3 separate regions of the Homo sapiens genome follow, and all the other regions are reported to be linked to region 1. The links are microRNA targets in miRTarBase. Many come from high-throughput screens and were not tested one by one. Region 1 holds a microRNA gene; each other region holds the end of a gene's coding sequence.
What was found. The annotated mature microRNA hsa-miR-3145-5p reads AACUCCAAACACUCAAAACUCA and lies in region 1 at 1,213-1,234, shown strand. An mRNA with a match to its seed (bases 2 to 7 or 8) in the 3' UTR can be bound and repressed. Matches are read on the target gene's strand: a 7mer-m8 pairs with bases 2 to 8, a 7mer-A1 pairs with bases 2 to 7 and ends in A, and an 8mer does both.

Region 1 (4,243 bases):
TCTGCTAGCTTCCAGCTCTTCTTCTATAGCTTCCTCACCTCTCTCAGCTTTCACAGAATTGAAGAGAGTTAGGGCCTTGATTAGGCTTTGGCTTAAGGGGAATGTTGTGGCTGGTTTGATTTTCTGTCCAGACCATTAAAACTTTCTCCATATCAGCAATAAAGCTGTTTTTTTATTTGTGTATGTTCTGGAGTAGCACTTTTCATTTCCTTCAAGAACTTTTCCTTTGCAGTCACAGCTCGGTTAACTGTTTGGCACAAGAGGCCTAGCTTTTGGCCTATCTTAGCTTTTGACATGCCTTCCTCACTAAGCTTAATCATTTCTAACTTTTGATTTAAAGTGAGAGACATGCAACTCTTCCTTTCGCTTGAACCCTTAGAGGCTATTGTAGGGTTATTAATTGACCTAATTTCATTATTGTTGTATCTCAGGGAATAGAGAAGCCCAAGAAGAGGGAGAGAAACTGGGAAACAGCTGGTCAGTGGAGCAGTCAGAACACACACAACATATATCAATTATATTTGCTATCTTATGTGGGTGTGATTTGTGGCACCCCCAAAACAATTACAATAGTAATATCAAAGATCACTGGTCACAGATCACCGTAACAGATCTAATAATAATGAAAAAGTTTGAAATATTGCAAGAATTACCAAAACGTGACACACAGACACACAGTAAGCATGTTAGAAAAATGGCATCAATAGACTTGCTCAACACAGGGTTGCCACAAACCTTCGACTTGTAAAAAAAAAAACAAAAACAAAAAAACAAAAAAAAAAACCCCAGTTATCTGCAATGCACAATAAAGCTAAGCACAGTAAAACGACGTATGCATCTATAGCATTCATCTGTTTCCTATCATATTCTGAAACTTTTTATACTGTGAAAATATTGGAGGGTCTGTTTTGGGAATAGAATTTTGGTGGTCCTTGTGATAAGATATATGAGTTTTTTCATATGCTTTTTAAGGTCTTTAGGAAATGTTTTTGTTTTAATAAGAAAGTTATACTTAGCTCTAGAGGGTGATAAAATAGCTGTATTTCTATTTTTTTTTACATGCCTAGAATGGTTTCACATTTAAAACTGCTACCCAAAAGTATCAGGATTTTGTTTATGCTACTTAAAGACAGTTAAAAATCTACCACTAACTCCATGCAAAAACTAGTACAATTTTGAAAGGAAAAAAAATGTATTTGTTTATATGAGTTCAACTCCAAACACTCAAAACTCATTGTTGAATGGAATGAGATATTTTGAGTGTTTGGAATTGAACTCGTATACACTGATACACCGATACCAGTCAACTTCCCATCTTCTAAATTACTAAATGGCAAAATTTTGCACTTCCTCAAAGTGGGTTTTTCTTCTGTCCTGCCCTTTTGCCCATTTCCCTCTCTGTGTGGGACAGCCTCGTGTGTGTGTATGTGTCTGTCTATCTGTCTTCAGTGAGTGAGTACTTGAAAGAGGGTAGAGAGAGGAAATAGATCATCTTCGCTAAAAATACAAGTATAAAAATTCCTCTCCATCATCACAGTGAAGGAGAAGGCTTTATGCTGGGATCCTTCCTTCCAGGGTGCCATCTCCTTTGAGGTTGATACAAGCACAGTGCTGCCATTTCAGTACTACCCTCTGCTATCTGAGTGAGCAAAAGGCATCCTATATCCAGTCCATGCCCTGGTTAGATTATGTGTTGGGAGAGGGAAGCCTTAGAAACCCCATCAGTCCTAGGGTCGCATCCAGGTGTCCACTGACACAGAGGGGTGTGCTTGACTCGCATTGCTCAGCAAAGCCCGTGTTGAGATAGATACTTTTGGGTCCTTGTTGGATGGAGATAACATAGGGAGAACTATAGTTTTACTACTATTTTTAGAGATTCGATTTGTCTTAAGGATTGACTTTTTTTTTTCTCAGTACACTTTGGGTAGGTTCTTGTCTTTGTGATTTTTTTTCTTTTTTCTCATAAGCTCTGTTCTTTCCTGGGTAGCTTGAAATCTAACTGTTTACACTTAAAGTTTACCTCGTCCACGTCCCTCTCTGTTGGCCCTTCCTTGTGTTTCTTTCTTTCTGTCTTTTTTTTTTTTTAACATACTATTCTCTGTTTGGTTGTAAAACTCCAACGAATAAATCATCCTAATTTGAGGAAATGTTCACTGGATCAGTTCCTGCCAGTTTCCCCAACTAGAACACAACAGATTGCTGTTGAATTTTGAATGTCACCAACAGACAGATAATGGCTTCAGATGGATAATGAAATGTTTGGAACACAGATGGGCCTGTAAATCAATTTTCTTTGCCTTAGAATTTCCTTCTGACATAAAGAATTAATGTAATTAACACTGTTTTATACCAGTACCCCTCAAATATGGTATCTCTGTGGCCCTATTGTTCAATTACTACATTCATCTACCTTTGGGAAAGATGTGTCACTGCTTGATAGATGGTCTGCACAGTCACCCAGTGGGCGAAAGGCTACCTTGAAGACTTTACTGAAAGGTGATTATTTCAAAGTAAATCCTCCTCTGAGCCCTTGGCAGCCTTGATCTTGAAGGGATACCCTGAGAATTCCATACGCAGCACTCAAGCCATAGGAGGATTGGAGGTACAAATTAAGAGAAGTACCTGACATTCATGACAATAATTTTCATTTTAGAGCTATCAGTAACTTTTTAAATGTACTTAGATACCTACAGGAGAAAGGAAATTAAATCAAATAGAAAAATTTTTTTAAAATTCTGTCAGAGGGGTGAGGGTACACGTGATGAACTATGGATTTTATTTTCAGGTAACAAGCCTCTTTCTGCTTTATCTCCAGCATCAGGCACTGGCCAAGATGATGCTGATGGCCACTCAGTGTACACCCCTGATCACTACTCTACACTAGGAAGGTTCAATAGCTGTCGGTCTGCTGGGCAGCGCTCAGAAACCAGGGACTCCAGCTGTCAGACGGAGGATGTGAAGGTCGTACCACCTTCCATGAGGAGAATCAGGGCACAGAAGGGGCAAGGCATTGCTGCCCAGATGGGCCACTTCTCAGGTTCCTCTGGCAACATGTCTGTGCTGAGCGATTCTGCAGGGATCGTATTCCCTTCCCGCCTTGACAGTGATGCTGGCTTCCATAGTCTTCCGCGTTCTGGAGCAAGGGCAAACATTCAGTCCCTTGAGCCGAGGCTGGGTGCCCTCGGCCCTGCAGGAGACATGAATGGCACTTTCCTCTACCAGAGAGGTCACCCACAAGCAGATGAAAACTTAGGCCATTTAGGAGGTGCCTCAGGGACTGGAACACTTTTGAGACCCAAATCCCAGGAGTTGAGACACTTCGAGAGTGAAAATATAATGAGCCCAGCGTGTGTGGTTTCTCCTCATGCAACCTACTCCACCAGCATCATCCCAAATGCCACACTGTCTTCCTCTTCCGAGGTCATCGCTATTCCCACTGCTCAGAGTGCGGGACAGCGGGAAAGTAAAAGTTCTGGCTCATCACATGCAAGGATAAAATCCAGAGACCACCTCATCTCCAGGCATGCTGTGAAAGGTGATCCTCAGTCTCCCGGTCGCCACTGGAATGAGGGCCATGCCACCATTCTTTCACAGGACTTAGACCCTCATTCCCCTGGTGAACCCGCACTGTTGTCCCTCTGTGACTCAGCCGTCCCTCTAAATGCTCCAGCAAATAGGGAGAATGGGTCCCAAGCTATGCCGTATAATTGTAGAAACAACCTGGCCTTCCCAGCCCACCCCCAAGATGTGGATGGCAAGAGTGAATCTAGTTATTCAGGGGGCGGAGGGCACAGCAGCTCGGAGCCCTGGGAATACAAATCCTCAGGTAATGGAAGGGCATCCCCCCTGAAGCCGCATTTAGCAACTCCTGGCTATTCCACTCCCACAAGTAACATGAGCAGCTGCAGTTTGGACCAAACGTCCAACAAAGAGGATGCTGGGTCGCTGTATTCTGAGGACCACGATGGCTACTGTGCATCTGTGCACACTGACTCTGGACATGGATCTGGGAATCTGTGCAATAGCAGTGATGGCTTTGGGAACCCCAGGCACAGCGTGATCAATGTTTTTGTTGGAAGAGCTCAGAAAAACCAAGGGGACCGGTCCAATTACCAGGATAAATCCCTATCAAGAAACATCTCTTTGAAGAAAGCAAAGAAGCCTCCCCTGCCACCCTCCCGGACAGACTCCCTCCGCAGGATTCCCAAGAAGAGCAGCCAGTGCAACGGGCAGGTGCTCAACG
Region 2 (4,219 bases), not on the chromosome of region 1:
TTCTCTCTCTCTCTCTCTCTCTCTCTGTTTCTCCATCCATCCACCTACCTACCTTTTCTCCGTTGTCTTTTAAATAATGTATATTACCAAAAAAAACACCTTTTCTGCAGAGGAACTTAATCACCAAAACTGATGCTTGAGGTGTTTTGTTTTCTTCCACTCTCATGTTAAGATTTTTTCTATTTCAGAAATTAACCCTGCAGCATGTGAACAGTAATCAGTGCCTGGATAAAGCCACAGAAGAGGATAGCCAGGTGCCCAGCATTAGAGACTGCAATGGAAGTCGGTCCCAGCAGTGGCTTCTTCGAAACGTCACCCTGCCAGAAATATTCTGAGACCAAATTTACAAAAAAACGAAAAAAATAAGGATTGACTGGGCTACCTCAGCATACATTTCTGCCACATTCTTAAGTAGCAAAAAAGGAAAAGTGCTTTCCTCCTCTGCAGGATGTAAGGTTTATCAGCCATTAAAACTTAGACTTCTCTAGCTTTTCACTAGCTGTGAACCAGCCTTCCTGTCCATGGACGTGAAACTGCATAGTAATGAGACTGTGCACACTGATGTTTACAAGATTGAAAGAGTCTTTCTCCGAAAATCATGGTAAAGAATACTGAGACAATGAAAAAAAATCAACAAAATATGCTTTCTGGAGAACTGTACCTTTTATGGTTTGCTTGCACATCAGTAGTTTCTGCTGAACGTGCTGTCATAATGAAGAGATTTCCAAGATTTTTTTTCCTGATTAGAACTGGTAGCCAGTATATTAAATATTGATATAAAAATAAAAGAACTGGAACCAGATTCAGAATCATGAAAACAACATTTTTACAACAACAAAAAAACTATATTAAACAGGGTTTAAAGGAAATTAAAACAGAACTATGAGAAGTACAATTTGTTATAGTATAGTATCAAATTTCTATATAGATTTTATACCTCAGTGGGGAAAAATAACTGATTCCAATGACATTCATTTTGTTTTCATCTGTGATAGTCATGGATGCTTTTATTTTCCTTGGGGTGCTGAAATTGAGCTGAAAAAAAAAGGCTCTTTGAATATAGTTTTAATTTCTCTCTACAGTTTTTTTTGTTTGGTTTGTGGGCTGTTGGAATTGTAATTTTTAATTGCCTTCTAAAAAATGGAAATTTAACAATGTCTGATCTCAGCTGAACAAATTAGATGTTTCAGTTGCTCTTGGGTCAACTGGCTTACAGATTTACATGTGCACACACACACAAATTTCTTATCACATTTTCGACTTCTTCACTTGACCTAACTGATTATGCGAAATACCCAAGATTCATGCTACTGTACCACAGATTTGTTTTCACAGCAATAAATCTTCAGTTCTTTGTTTATGATTCCACTTAACAAAAGGCCTGCAGAAGTGATTTATTATTTGGGTATTTGGAGATAATACATTTGATGGTTTTTTGGAAAACCTTTTTCACTCCATACTCAGATATGCTTCATTGTCAAATGCATATTTAGATTAGATTATTGAATTGTAATGTTTATCTGCTGCTTTTTTTAAATAAAATTTGACTGAAAATGTTTAATTGGCATTTTTTAATGACTTAGCCAAAGAAGTGCAGCTATTATTCCATATTAATAGGCTTGCATTTCTTTTCCTAAATCTTATTTAGGCTAAATCAGTTTTATTTTTCTCTGATTTTTTTTAATACCACAGAATCACCTGAGTGTCAATTGAAAGTTGTCAATTAAAAGGTAACCTTTTAATCTCGTAGGAGGAATCTCATTAAGACATTTTTCCTGATATGTAGAGCAGTCTGTTGGCAAAAATGCATATATTTTCTTTCATATTTGTAAAATTATATTTAATGGAATTCTTTTCTTTGATTATCAAGGACTTTCACTGCAGGCAGTGCTATTTCTTGTGCCTAAGAATGTTTCCAAAAGTCGCATCGCTAATGATATTTGCCAAGTTGAGTGTACACAAAGTTTCTCATATCCTGTTCAAGTTAATCAACATCAAGCACATGGGGATGCTTTAGGGTGAGTCTATAGTACAAAATGCATAAACCATGTCCCCAGGAAATTTGAAAGGAAGCAGGTGCTGAATGGAATTTTTTTCCTTTTCCATGAGCTGTGTTAATTCTATCTCCAGTAGGCCTAATGCTTGAATAAGCAAGATGTCTAATCAATAAATTATTTTCATGCTCAGAATTTCAGGTTTTTGTACTCCAGCATAGCTTGGTCTTATTTCTTACTGTATGAAAGCTTAACAGCAATGTGATTTAAGGTTTTGTTTTAAATGGGAGATGTAAGTGATTTAATTCATGGGTACTTTTAGAACCTGATAGATAATCCCATTGCCTTTATTTTTCTAATTAAAGAATTCCTAAATACTTTGAAAATACAAAATATTCCTGAATAGTTGTGCCTTACATTGGTTTTATTTGAAGTTAGAGTGGATCCCTGTTTATCATAATTACTTGTAATTAGGCAGATGCTTATCACTCTATTATAACTCAAATTGGGAAGAAAAGAATGAAAAAGAAAACAATGGCTGGGTACTGGCTCATACCTGTAATTTTAGCATTTTGGGAAGGTGAGACGATAGGACCACTTGAGGGCAGGAGTTTGAGGTTGCAGTGAGCTATGATGGTGCCACTGCACTCCAGCCTGGGCAACAGAGAAGAAACCATGTATCTTAAAAAAAAAGAAAAAATGAAGGATGAAAAAGTGGGATTATTATTTAACCAGTGAAGAATTCATAAATGTGACAATTAAGGATAATTTGAATCTCACAAATCTATTCACCCCACCCCAGTCAAGGTCTATTTTAATATATCTATCTTCATTGGCATTCTTGAGAAATAGTGCTGCCATTGAACATTGGGAATATTCATCCATTCTGCAGATGGAGGACATCGTGCAGGCCATGTCCTCATTGCTCCCATTCTACATTTAGCTGAGAAACAGAGGTTCCTCTTTGTAAGGATTTGATGCTCTTCTCATCTTCCAAGAAGTATACCAAGAGCAAATTTAACTCTATAGTTACCTGTTCTTCAAAGAAAAAAGAAACTTAGAAGGTAGTGTTTCTGAGGTCATAACTGTGAGGGGTTGTATACAAAGAATGAGTCACTTTTTAAGCCATTTGGAAAATTAGATCTGTTTCTAATTAGATGACATTTTCTCCATTCTCTGATTTCCTGAAGATTGCCAAGCATTTGCTTGATAATCTACCAGGACTGATAATTTTGCAGAATATGAGGCAAATATATGAAATTCAGTTGTGTATCTATATCCTAGCAACAAACACTTGAAAATATAACGTTAAAATATGCCATTTGTAATAGCATCAAATAAGTCAAACTTCTAAGTAGGAAGAAAGTTAACAACAAGACCTCTACTCTGAAAACTACAAAACAGTGCTGGGAAGAATTATAGAGCACCAAAATAAATGGCTATTCTATGCTCATGGATTGAAAGACTGCATAATGGTAAGATGTCAGTTCCCCACAAATTGTTATCTAGATTCAATGAGATCAAAATCCCACAAGGCCATCTTGTAGAAATTGGCAAATACATATATGAAAATGCAACAGATTCTAAGTAGCCAAGATAATTTTGAAGAAGAAAAATAAAATTGGAGCACTTGTACTACCCAATGTCAAGACTTGCTCTAAAGCTACAACAGTTAAGAGAGTATGGTACTAGAGTTAGGATAAACAACAAATAGAAATAGACATGTCCAGAAATAGACCCACATGTATATGGTTATTGGCTTTTCAACAAAAACAAGCTATTCAATAGAAAAAGGGAAGATTTTTCAGTTGGAGTTGAAGTAACTGGATGTCTGGGAAAAAGCAATGTTAATAATGCCTTCTTCATACCATGCACAGTTTATTCAAAATGGATTATAGAACTAAATGTGAATGGCAAAACAATAAATCTTGTAAAAGGAAACCGACTATCTTCATGACATTGGGGTAGACAAGGATATCTTAGGCGAAGACATCTCAGGAAGGTTAAACAAAAAAACTGACAGATTTCATCAAAATTAGATACTTCTCATCAAAAAGATACTTTTAAAGTGAAAAGGCAAGCCACGGCCTAAGAGAAAATAATCACAATACACGGAACCAAAGGAAAGCAAAGAACATTTTAAAACCATTGTAACAGCAACCCAGTTTAACAATGAGTGAGTTGAATACATACTTCACAGAAGCTCTCCAGATGCAGGAGTAGCA
Region 3 (4,243 bases), not on the chromosome of region 1:
TAAAAGCACATGTGAGTCCTTCATTTCCCTTTAAAAAGAAATATTTTGAGTCTTGAGAAAAATAATGCAGACAATGGGATAAGATCAGGACAGAGTAGAAGCCAGAGGAAGGAAAGGAAAGGACCCAGGAGCCAGAACTTACCCAGAGAAGCCCTTGGATCCAGAAGATCCCATGAAGAGAGCTTATCAGTCCTGGGGACAGCTTCACAGACTCAACTTTACCCTAAAAATGGTCCCAGGAAGGTAGACATCGAAAATACCAGTGTGAACTGGACAATCTTTCCCTATCAGAGACCACAAGTTTATAGGCTAAGCTGGGTGACAGGGAGACCACCATGACCAACTAGACTTTCTAAGTGTTAACACTGAAACAGCCCACATCAGGGAAGCCCTTCAGTTCTAGGCAAACCAAAAGGGTTTGTCACCCTAGGTAGAAACCGCCTAAGTCTCCCATTAGGAGTGAGCAGTCAAACACAGTTATTCTCTTCCAAATGCTTCCACCCTGTTGGGATTTCACAACCATCTACTGGTGCATGCCACTCCTGGAAGCCAAAAACAAAGCTGGCAATAAGGAATGACCTGCAACATGTTCCCTGGAAAGACCCAGGCCACCGGCACATTTAAGGAGAAAGCTAGAAAGAGACTCTGCCCCTTTCACTTTATTGGGAACTCGGCCTTGAAGCTTCATGTTAGCTGAAAATAGCTAACCCCACATTGTGGATTCCCTGTTCCCATAATTACCCCTTTTTTGAAGTGGGGCGTTCCATGGTGGGGGATGACCTGACATGCTTATCTTTCTCACGCCCAGGGCATCAACTGGTACCATTGGAAAGGCCATGAGTTCTCCATCCCCTTTGTGGAAATGAAGATGCGCCCCTACAACCACCGTCTCATGGCAGGGAGAAAACGGCAGTCCTTACAGTTCTGAGCAGTGGGCGGCTGCAAGCCAACCAATATTTTCTGTCATTTGTTTGTATTTTATAATATGAAACAAGGGGGGAGGGTAATAGCAATGTGTTTTGCAACATATTAAGAGTATGTGAAGGAAGCAGGGATGTCGCAGGAATCCGCTGGCTAACATCTGCTCTTGGTTTCTGCTGCCCTGGAGCCTGACCCTCAGTCTCCATTCTCCCTCCTACCCAGGCCTCCTCAACCTTCACCTCCTTTCCCACCAAGGAGGAGAAGTAGGAAGTTTTCTTAAAGGGCCAATTCAAAGCCAAGTCGTGGGGTGCAGATTGTTATGGTGACAGGCACACACATTTTTCTACCCTTCTTCTGAGATGTCCTCTGCCTTCCAGGTATTTGTGATTTTGTCACAGCCTGACATGGCCAGGTTCTCACACTGGCCCAGAGAAAAGAGCCTCAGCAAGAGAGTTTTGCCAACAATTCCCCTTAAAAGGAAACAGATCAACTACACCGCATCCCAACAACCCAGGTTCTTTTCCTTCCTTCCTTCCTTCCTCCCTTCCTTCTTTCCTGCCTTCCCTCCTTCCCTCCTTTCTTTCTTGACAGTATCTCACTCTTGCTCAGTCTGGAGTGCAGTGGTGCAATCTCAGCTCACTACAGCCTCGACTTCCTGAGCTTAAGTGATCCTCTCGTCTCAGCCTCTTGAGTAGCTGGGACTACAGGCATGAGCCACCATACCTGGCTGATTTTTCTTTTATTTTTTGTAGAGATGGGGGTCTCACTGTGTTGTCCAGGCTGGTCACAAACTCCTGGCCTTGAACAATCCTCCCACCTCAGCCTCCCAAAATGCTGGGATTACAGGCTACAGCCACTGCATCCAGCCCCAAGTCCTTTATAATGGGCCAAAGATTCTCATCTTCTGACACTCTTATTATACCAGCCACATGTCCTGTTACCTTTCAAGAACAGTGGCTCTTTTCTGGCCCTGATGGAGTCTTTTGCCTAATCCCATCCTGTCTTAGACCCCAGAGCCTCAAAAGCCCAACCAGCATTTTGGAATCTAGTTCCCAAGGCATTGCCTGCTCCTGGCCCTGGGTGGCACAGTGGCTATGTGCCTGTGAGTCATCAGCCACTGCCCCCACCCTCAGGTCAGACAGACAGTCACTTTCTGCAAAGGTAGGAGGGGGAGATGGTTGTAGTTTTTAGCACTTTTGGGTCAAGCATTGAGGAAAGGACTGAAGAAGTCAAAATCAGGGCACTGCCATAGAGATTATAGTTTCCATGGGAAACACAGATCTTCCCTAGCCCTGTTTTCTCCATTTCTGGTCCTATTTGTCACAGATTCTTTTTTTCTGAATTGCAAACCGAAGGCCTCATATCTATCTTCACCCAAGCCCTCCTTAGTGTAGGTGGCTTAATAAGAGTCAGGAGAAGAAGGTATATGCCCAGAGAGCTATACCCCTGACTGATAATCCTGGAAAGAGGTTGATTTTTTTTTTCTTTTTTGGTCCTATGGGAAACAGGAATGACCTTCTTAATGAGGTGAGATCATGAGAAGCCTTTCCATCTTCTTTTATTATTCTGCCTTGCAAAGGAAAAATGACAATAGCCAAAGGAAATTACATCCAGAAATCCAAAGGTGAATAGGTGATAACTGTGGGCCTACTTCCCATTTTATGAGATGCACTGTCTTCACTAGCACAATTTGATCTTAAGCCCAAGAGAGCTAGATGCTCTAGAAGCCGTGACCTTTCAATTTCTCCTCCAAATCCAATATCAGCAACCATCCCCGCAACATCTGCCCAGATCCATGCCCAGTTCCCTGAGCTGTCTTCTCCCTTTCCTCTCCCATTCCTCAAGGCCCAGCACCATTTTCTGTAGTGCCTATGTTTGTCTGACCAGAGCAGTGTGTACCTTTGCCAACCAGTTACTGGATGAGCCTTAGTGTCGGCAATTTTCTAATGGAAATATCCTCACTCTTACCAAGCTTTGAGAACCAAGATGAAAAGTCCCTTGGGCTGACCATCAGGCCTCGGACCTCATGGGGATGCAGCCAGCCACCATTGAATGGAGGCGCTTCCCTTGCCGCAGGCTTCTAGGCTTTGTTCACTGCGGCAGTGTGGATGTGACAGGCATAACCCTGAAAAACCTAGGCACCACTTGCATTTCTCAGTTAACCATGGGCTTCAACAAACTGGGAGGAGGAAAAAACAGAAACAGATCCTTTCAACAAGCATGTAAATTACAGAAGACTTACCTAGAGACGGGGCAACAATGAATAGTAGGAAGCACATTGCATGGGAAACTTGAGGGCCGAGGTACAGGCCAACAGCTGTCATCTTAGCTACGACATGACATCGGCTGGGTTGTTTCACCTCTCTGGGCCAGTTTCTTCATCTGTCAGATGAGAGATTAGACTAGAATGAGTTCTAATTTCCCTTTCAGTTTTGACGGTCAATGATGCTAATCTGTGATCTGAAAACCTAAGTAGAAATTGGCATGGTGGGACAGCACAATTAGGTAATGAAAATTCACTAGACTCCCTGTTTAATGAGGAAAGAAGGAAAGAAGGAAGGAAGGAAGGAAGGAAAGAAGGAAGGGGAGGGAGGGAGGGAAAGAAAAGAGAGAGATTGATTCAGGAGTCATAAGTAAAACACACACACACACACACACACACACACGAAAATACTGCAGAAAAGATCATGCCGAGTGAGAGGCTGAACTCTTTTTGTCCATAAAAACAGAGACCAGGTACCTGGGTGGTGCCAGCACGCCCACTTCATCAAGGAAGTTGAAATGGAAAAAGATTATGTGTTGTCAATTCAGGTGAAAGTCAAGAAACATCAGTGGAAACAAAAATCTTCCTTTTATTGAAACCATTCTACACTATGGAACATTTTTATAAATAGTACCAGCGGCATTGCATAGCTTTATTTTGAAGCAAGAAAGAGACTTCAAAGATCAGCTTATTCAACCCTCTATAAAAGGATTTATAGATTCCTTTTATTTAATAGGGTGATTTTCTCATGAGTTTTCACCATGTTTAAAAGACACTGTGCCCCACTCTCATCCCAAGGTCTATGGTCAACTTGACTCAATGCTCATAACTTTCCTCGCTGATTCCTGCTTATCCTGCTCCTCCAAGCACAACTGCATTTCCCAAAGGTAGATCCAGTAAGCAATACTCTCAAAGCACCCACCCTATGCACACCAGTTTCCCTCAAGGGACTCAAAAGGAATCGAGGTAGACCCTTCTCAGAGGCTGTTTAACTACAGACACATCAGGATATGTACTAATACCCAAAACCAAAACCACCACCAATGACTGCAATAGATT

Region 2: the mRNA of GALNT1 is a reported target of hsa-miR-3145-5p. The part of its 3' UTR that is shown has no 7-base or 8-base seed match.
Region 3: the mRNA of TNR is a reported target of hsa-miR-3145-5p. The part of its 3' UTR that is shown has no 7-base or 8-base seed match.

What each region holds. Positions count from the first base shown.
Region 1 is chr6:138,432,253-138,436,495 of GRCh38, reverse strand. MIR3145 (microRNA 3145) reads left to right here and starts at 1,202; the gene lies at 1,202-1,283. NHSL1 (NHS like 1) reads left to right here. Exons shown (of 8, transcript NM_001144060.2): 6 at 2,816-4,243.
Region 2 is chr18:35,709,436-35,713,654 of GRCh38, forward strand. GALNT1 (polypeptide N-acetylgalactosaminyltransferase 1) reads left to right here. Exons shown (of 12, transcript NM_020474.4): 12 at 189-2,399. The coding sequence ends at 335. It overlaps LOC105372064 (a long non-coding RNA gene), which reads right to left. Exons shown (of 5, transcript XR_935377.3): 2 at 2,551-4,219. Among named protein-coding and RNA genes, the nearest start is that of MIR3975, 120 kb to the left of the region's middle.
Region 3 is chr1:175,320,042-175,324,284 of GRCh38, reverse strand. It overlaps TNR (tenascin R), which reads left to right. Exons shown (of 23, transcript NM_003285.3): 23 at 809-4,243. The coding sequence ends at 928. It overlaps LOC105371623 (a long non-coding RNA gene), which reads right to left. Exons shown (of 4, transcript XR_001738302.2): 2 at 3,164-3,303. Among named protein-coding and RNA genes, the nearest start is that of KIAA0040, 130 kb to the right of the region's middle.